Homo sapiens: one gene and its partner. The protein of the gene in region 2 interacts with the protein of the main gene of each other region in a pairwise test. Each region holds a gene or a part of one and is shown on either strand. Other genes may lie near its edges. The genes, in order: SLU7 and PPIL3.

Region 1 (3,825 bases), on a different chromosome or scaffold from region 2:
TTGGCAATAATCAGCTGTTGCTGAACAGTGGATGCCCCATTAGATAGGGCTTGTGTTCTCCAGTTTGTACAATTTGCCTGGCTCACTTCACTCATGTATGATCACTGGTCTGGCTCCTATAGGGAGTTAGGTTTTTGACCCTCAACTAAGAGAGACAATTGTAGTTTGGTTACTTCAAGAGAACAGCAAAGGACAATATATGCTTTATGATGTTTACAATGCAATATGAATATACTACATTACTTATTAAATATTCTTGTCAAAATATTTAACTTATATCCAATCAAGCCGTTAGACCTAAATTCCTATTTATAAAACATACAGGGATAGAGAAACAAGTTATATAACACTACTAGGAACCAGTCAATACAGAATATGAGACAATTTACAAACTAATTGGCCTAATCTGTTAAATGGTCACCGTCATGAAAATGAAGAGATACACTCTAGAAAAGAGACATAATAACCGCATAACGATCAAAAGAAATTTGAAACGAATTCTGACTAAAACAAAAAATAGGTGTTAAAGGCATTTTTCTGTATATTTTGGAAAATGTGATTAATGACTAGATATTAGGTGATATAATGTTAATTTTCTGAAGTGCAATAATGTCGATGTGGTTATATAGAAGAAAATCCTCATTTTAAGGAGATATGTGATACAGCGTTTATGGATAAAATGTCATGATATACATAATTTCCAAATGTTTCAGTCAAATAAATATATACATAAACTATATGTGTGTATATATGTGTATTTTACATATATATGTAAAACTGTGCATATGCACACATACAACTAGACAAAGCATATAAGGCAATATGTTAAAAATTTCAGAATTTAGATGATGGGTATATAGATGAACATAGTATTCCTTCAAAATTTTTCTATTTTTGAAAAAATTCCATGAAACAGTTAAAATTTTTTTTTTTTTTTAAAGCATAGAGAATACAAATGGTTAGCTAATAAAGTTGTAGTGGAAAAATGCAATACAGAGCAAAACCAACAAGGACACAAAATTGTTCCAGTTTAGCACATACTGTGTGATTGTGGATCTTCACATCCTCCTCATACTTAGAGCAGGCAACAGCCCGCTCCTGTCCTTTGATGACTGTCCCATGTCTTGAGTACTCCACATAGTCTTCAGTCTGGGCTAAAAGCAATTCAGCTGGAGGGGCATCCAAATGTTCTTGGCCACCATACTAAAAGGACATTGGACATTATTCAATACATTTTACAACCTGATTTGCATTTAAATTTCCAGAAAACATTTATTTCTAATCAGAAAGAAAGGGAACATTCTTTACTGGGTTTTGTTATAGAAAGCACAGTAGGAAAAAAAAAGCCACAAATTTTTTCTGAGGCAAATAGAAGATGTCTCAGTTGCTATTCATCTGTTGAGTACAGTAAGTTACAAGATGGCCATAAATTCCTCTTATCTTTCTATACATGCCCTTTTGCCACAGGGCTTTGCTTTTCTTCCCATCAAGAGACGAAGTCTTTCTCTGTCCCTTGAATCTGGGCCTGACCATGTTATTTGCTTTGACCAATGAAAGTTGGCAAATGTGATGCAAGCAAAGGCACTTATGTACCACAGCACACTTTTTGCTGCCACTCTCTAGAACTCTGAGAATGCCATTTTAAAAAGCTGTGCTACCCTACTAGAGGATGAAAGACCACATGGGGTGGAGATGAGCTGTCCCAGAAGAGGTCCCCTTAGGACAATTAGCCTGTTAACTGCTAAACACAAGAGTGAGGCCATCTTAGTTCATCATCTAACCTCAGCTGAGCAAGCCCAGACCAGGAGACTTGGCCAACTGTGAGAAACAATAAATGTTTATTTTAAGCTATTAAGATTTGAGGTAGCTTGTTTTGCTGCAAAAGCTCATACAAAATTACCATCTGACTAAGAGAAAGGAAGAAAAGGACTATTCTTCATGGATTAAGAGGGCTCTCTTTGCATTATTTTCCAAATGTAAAACTAACGCTTATTAACTAGTAACTTCTCTTTAACAGAAGTTCTTCTTTAGCATTTTGGTCAAAATTACCTTTTCCAGGATGCTTTCTTTCTGCTGTTCTTTGAAATCTTCTTTTTTGACTTTGAAGGACTTATACAACAGCTCTAGCTTTGTAGGATCTGCCTGTAGATGCACTTCAGATCCCTTGTCATAGGCTTCCCATGCAAACACTAGAGTAATTCAAAACATCTTAGTGAGTTGGCAGCTGCATTACTGTATGCTTCTTGAAAACAAGCTTTAAACAATCCCAAACGTCTTATGAGCTGATATAAAATGGCTTGACATAGAGGAAACACTTACACTGTGTCTGAGCCATTGAAATGGTATCTCCTGTGTACCTAACAAAGTTATCTCCAGCATAACTCACTCTGTAAATACAAATAAAGAAAATGTTTCAGAGATTGATTTAAGGAAAATTAATTCGTAAAACTGAATCTGAATTAAAATGAACACCATCTATGGTCAGGTCAGAAAACAATTAACTTTCTCTCATCTTAAAATCTGTACATTTAACTTGATACTTACTCATCTGGATTCTTTCCTGCATTGGCATAAGGATTCTCTCTCATTGCTCTAGTTTTTGGATCATAGTAGGCAGAATTTGGATCTAAATTCCTCAAATACTAGAAGAAAAAAATATTTAAAGAATTAATGTTTACTCACAGCAAAAAGATTTCAGCAGACTAGTTGGAGGAGTTGAACATGATCAATTAAATAAATGTGTGTATACATTTCTGGGGTTCAGGTGAAGAGAAAAAACAGAATGAAACCTTATCTTAGAATGACTCTGACTATATTATCCATATGCTACCCAGAGTCGATAAAATTTATGCTGGGAAGACAAGTATTTTTCAAATATGTATGTTAAGCTGACAAGACTTACTTTTGCAATATCTTCTCGAATCCTGAGATTCCGGACAGTAATTCGTCTCTTGGAGTCAAAATTCTGTCCAGGCATGTCAATATCATCTGCATATTTATCTTCATCCTCATCTTCACTATTATGATCTTTTTCCTAAAAGAGGGAGAGGAAGGAAAAGTAAGAAGAAAAGAAAGCAGCATGTAGTTCTTTTTTTTCCCCTTTCCCTTTAACCAAACCCTTATTTACTTGTGTTCTTTAAAAGCTATTATTAGTGTTATTTATTATTAGCCATCAGAAATTTAAAAATTTAACATATACTCAGAGACAGCAAATATGTATTACCATCTGAGAATTTGGTTCCTCTTCTCCCCACTGGTGTTTTGGAGAATTCTGCATCATGAAAGAAGAAAAATCATTCATAATCTCATTCCACTTAATCCAATTAACTTTATTATTAAGATAATAAAGTATTATTATCTTATTATAAATAATATATTTATATAATAAAATATATTTTATTATATATTATATTTATATTATATATAATAAATATTTATTATATAATATATAATATGTAACTTATAAATAAGTATTAAGATAATAAAACTTAATTCTAACTGAACAAACTCTCACACTTCTCAGTTATAATGAGCGCAAAAATTCTGAATACAAGAGTGCCATTGTAAATAATTTTATTACACTGTCTATAAAGCCAGCAAATTTCAAGAGAATTTTAATTAAGATTATAACCACAAAATGGTAACAGAAAGATTAAGATGTCCAAAGTACCCAATAAATATTAATTTCTAAATGTGTTAGTCTTCAGACATACTGTATTCATTAAACGTTACTAGTTTCCTAGTAAGTCCAAAAAGAAAATATTACTGGGTTCATGTCTTCACAGCCAAAGTGAAGTTTGGGCAATGAAAAAAATCTACAAGTGA
Region 2 (3,825 bases):
AAACTCCACGTATTTAATTCCTCTTCTTTTACCCACTTCTTCATACTATACATTCAGTTCCTTAGATCTTGGTTAATGGAATAACTTACCTGTTGGATCTCCTGTTTGAACCATGAAACCCTTGATATTCCTATGAAATATACAGCCATTGTAGTAATTACTGGCACAAAGAGCCAAGAAATTCTGAAGGGAGTAAAAATGATTGAGAAATGATGCAGCAGAAACCCAGTTAAGACAAAAAACCAATCATATTTACTGAAAACGTGATAGCAGCATATTTAAACTATGACTGTTGTCATTACTTTGGATGTCATTTCCCTGCCTACAACACTTCAATAGCTTCCTTCTCCTCTTGAAATAAAATACAAAATCTTTCGCCGGGCATGGTGGCTAACGCCGGTAATCCCAGCACTTTGGGAGGCCGAGGTGGGTGGATCACGAGGTCAGAAGATCGAGACCATCCTGGCTATGGTGAAACCCCATCTCTACTAAAAATACAAAAAATTAGCTGGGTGTGGTGGCAGGCGCCTCCAACTACTCTGGAGGCTGAGGGAGGAGAATGGCGTGAACTTGGGAGGCGGAGGTTGCAGTGAGCCGAGATCGCACCACTGCACTCCAGCCCGGGCGACAGAGACTCCGTCTCAAAAAAAAAAAAAAACAACCAAAAACAAAAAGAAAATCTTCAGCAGGGCCTAACAAGCCCTGCAGTACCTGGCTCATCTCCTCATCACATATACTAAGAACTGCTTTCTTGTTGCTTACTACCTAAACTCCATCAGCATTCTGACAATTAATCCAAAAGGGGCAGCTTTTCTTACCTGGGGTACTCTGTACCTGAGATTTCTATATCTGGAATGTTCTTTTTTTTTTTTTTTTTTTTTTGTAGAGACAGTGTCTCCCTATGTTGCCCAGGCTGGTCTTGAACTCCTGAGCTCAAATGATTCTCCTGCCTCAGCCACCCGAAGTGCTGGAATTACAGGTGTGAGCCACCGTGCCTGGTCTTGGAATTTTTTAAAATTTTATTTCACAACCTTTTCTGAATCTGAATACCTGGAATATTCTTTCTATACCTCTTTCCATGGAGATGCCCTCATACCTTTGCATTTAATTTAAGTATTAGTTTATTGGCTACACCTGCCCTCACCTTCTTCCTTTCCCATTATTCTCTATCTCAACACTTAATTTTTTTCAAGGCATTATCATCTTTTAGAATTACTTAATTTTAGGCCAGGCACAGCAGCTCACACCTGTAATCTCAGCACTTTGGGAGGCAGGAAGATCACTTGAGTCCAGGAGTTCAAGACCAGCCTGGGCAACATAGTAAGACCTCATCTCTATCTTTAAAAAAAAAATAAATAAATGAAAATAATTTCTTAAAAATATAATTACTTAATTTTCCTGCCCTGCTTATTTTTACAACTAAAATATTGGCTCCATGAGGGTAAGGAATGTCTGTTGCTCATCACTGTATCTCCAGACTCTGGGGCAAGATAGCCTTTCACGAATAATGGGTTTCTTGTTTCGTTTTGAGACAGGGTCTTGCTCTGTCACCTAGGCTGGAGTGCAGCAGTGTGATCAGAGCTCACTACAGTCTTGACCTCCTAGGCTCAAGCAATTCTCCCACCTTGGCCTCCCTTGTAGCTGGGACAACAGGGTCACACCACAACATCTGGCTAATTTTTGTATTGTTTTGTAGAGATGGGGGTCTCACTATATTGCCTAGGTAAGCCTAGAACTTCTGAGCTCACCTTAGCCTCCCAAAGTGCTGGAATTATAGATGTGAGCCACCATGCCCAGCCATAAATAATTGCTGAATAAATGAATATATACAGGTGACTCTTCTTCCTTCCATCCTTGTCATTTAAACAGGTGACACAGGCCGGGTGCAGTGGCTTTGGGCAGCACTTTGGGCAGCCAAGACGGGTGGATCACCTGAGGTCAGGAGTTTGAGACCAGCCTGATCAACATGGTGAAACCCCATCTCTACTAAAAATACAAAATTAGCTGGGCATGGTGGCTGGCGCCTATAGTCCCAGCTACTTGGGAGGCTGAGGCAGGAGAATCCCTTGGACCTGGGTGGCGGAGGTTGCAGTGACCCAAGATTGGGCCACTGCACTCCAGCCTGGGCAACAAGAGCAAAACTCTGTCTCAAAATAAATAAATAAATAAATAAAAATAAACAGGCGAAATAATGTATAGAACAGGCCAGGCATGGTGGCTCACGCCTATAATTCCAATACTTCAGGAAGCTGAGATGGGACGATGGCTGGAGACCAGGAGTTCGAGACCAAGTTGGGCAACATAGTGAGATCTCGTCTCCATAAAAATTTAAAAAAAATTAGCCTGGCATGGTGGCACACGCCTGTAGTCCTATCTACTTGGGAGGCCAAGGTGGGAGGATTGCTTGAGCCCAGGAGGTTGAGGCTGCAATGAGCCGTGATTGCACCACTGCACTCCAGTCTGAGCGACAGAGCAAGACCCTGTCTCAAAAAAAAAAAAAGTATACAACAATTCTTTAATATAATATCCTGCCGGGCATGGAGGCTCATGCCTATAATCCCAACACTTTGGGAGGCTGAGGCAGGCGGGTTACCTGAGGTCAGAAGTTTGAGACCAGCCTGGTCAACATGGTGAAACCCCGTCTCTACTAAAAAAATATAAAAATTAGCTGGGCATGGTGGTGGGTGCCTGTAATCCCAGGTACTTGGGAGGCTGAGGCAGGAGAATCGTTTGAACCCCAGAGGCGAAGGTTGCAGTGAGCCAAGATCATGCCACTGCACTCCAGCCTGGGTGACAGAGCAAGACTCCGTCTTGAGAAAAAAAAAAAAAAAAAAAAGGCCAGGTGCAGTGGCTCATGCTTGTAATCCCAGCACTTTGGGAGGCTGAGGTGCATGGATCACCTGAGGTTAGAAGTTTGAGACCAGCCTGACCAACATGGTGAAACCCTGTCTCTACTAAAAATACAAAAATTAGCCAGGCATGGTGGCGCACGCCTGTAATCCCACTTACTCGGGAGGCTGAGGCAGAAGACTTGCTTGAACCCAGGAGGCGGAGGTTGCAGTGAGCCGAGATCGCGCCATTGTACTCCAGCCTGGGGGACACAGCGAGACTCCATCTCAAAAAAAAATAATAATAAATAAATAAAAAAAAAGAAAGAAAAAAGTAATATAATGTCCTAATGATTACGTTTCCTGAAGAAAATTAGTTCAAAAGAAAAAGATACTGGCTACTCTATCGTTACCGAAAAATTATCTACGTTCTCTTTGATCCACCTTTGACATTGGACAAATAAGTGGAAATCAGGCCAGAAGTTAGGATGGCTAGTTTTCCCTAACAATGGTTTTACAGAAAGTTTTGTTGTTGTTATTTAGGTTAGATTATTCAATTCCAAAGTGCTTATCTTGTTGTATTAACTGATGTTGAATATGTAAATAATAGTACTTACCTCACATGTTTTGGGTGTCCTCTCACAGAAGACTTCAATTTTAATATCACCTACATCTGTATGCAGTGTCACAGACTAAAAAGGAGAGAAAATGTGAGAACAAATGAAATTTATTTAGGTGACTTTATGCATTGTTTATTTCCCTGTGTGGATATTCAAGATGATAATCTGAATAAAAACAGACAGAAATACTGCTTCAGAGATGACCCATCCACAAAGCAGCTCTTAGAGGTTAAGTTGTACTTTTTTCTCAAAATTGATCCCAACAGTAGAGAAAAAACTCCAGAATATAAATGTTAGGGTTAAGTAGTATCCATGACAAAAATTTGGAAGTAAATATTTTGATGGAAAGAATTATTTTAACTTTGAATTTTTTATCA

Evidence for each region.
Region 1: the proteins of PPIL3 (region 2) and SLU7 interact in binary tests that used the Homo sapiens proteins (3 or more experiments, as listed by UniProt).

The regions. Positions count from the first base shown.
Region 1 is NC_000005.10:160,405,427-160,409,251, forward strand, and holds part of SLU7 (pre-mRNA-splicing factor SLU7), read right to left. Parts: intron 3,272-3,825; coding exon 3,224-3,271; intron 3,035-3,223; coding exon 2,903-3,034; intron 2,643-2,902; coding exon 2,545-2,642; intron 2,388-2,544; coding exon 2,320-2,387; intron 2,190-2,319; coding exon 2,050-2,189; intron 1,204-2,049; coding exon 1,042-1,203; intron 1-1,041. UniProt on the Homo sapiens protein: Required for pre-mRNA splicing as component of the spliceosome. Participates in the second catalytic step of pre-mRNA splicing, when the free hydroxyl group of exon I attacks the 3'-splice site to generate spliced mRNA and the excised lariat intron.
Region 2 is NC_000002.12:200,882,253-200,886,077, forward strand, and holds part of PPIL3 (peptidyl-prolyl cis-trans isomerase-like 3), read right to left. Parts: intron 3,521-3,825; coding exon 3,446-3,520; intron 3,116-3,445; coding exon of another isoform or gene 3,010-3,115; intron 184-3,009; coding exon 90-183; intron 1-89. UniProt on the Homo sapiens protein: PPIases accelerate the folding of proteins. It catalyzes the cis-trans isomerization of proline imidic peptide bonds in oligopeptides. May be involved in pre-mRNA splicing.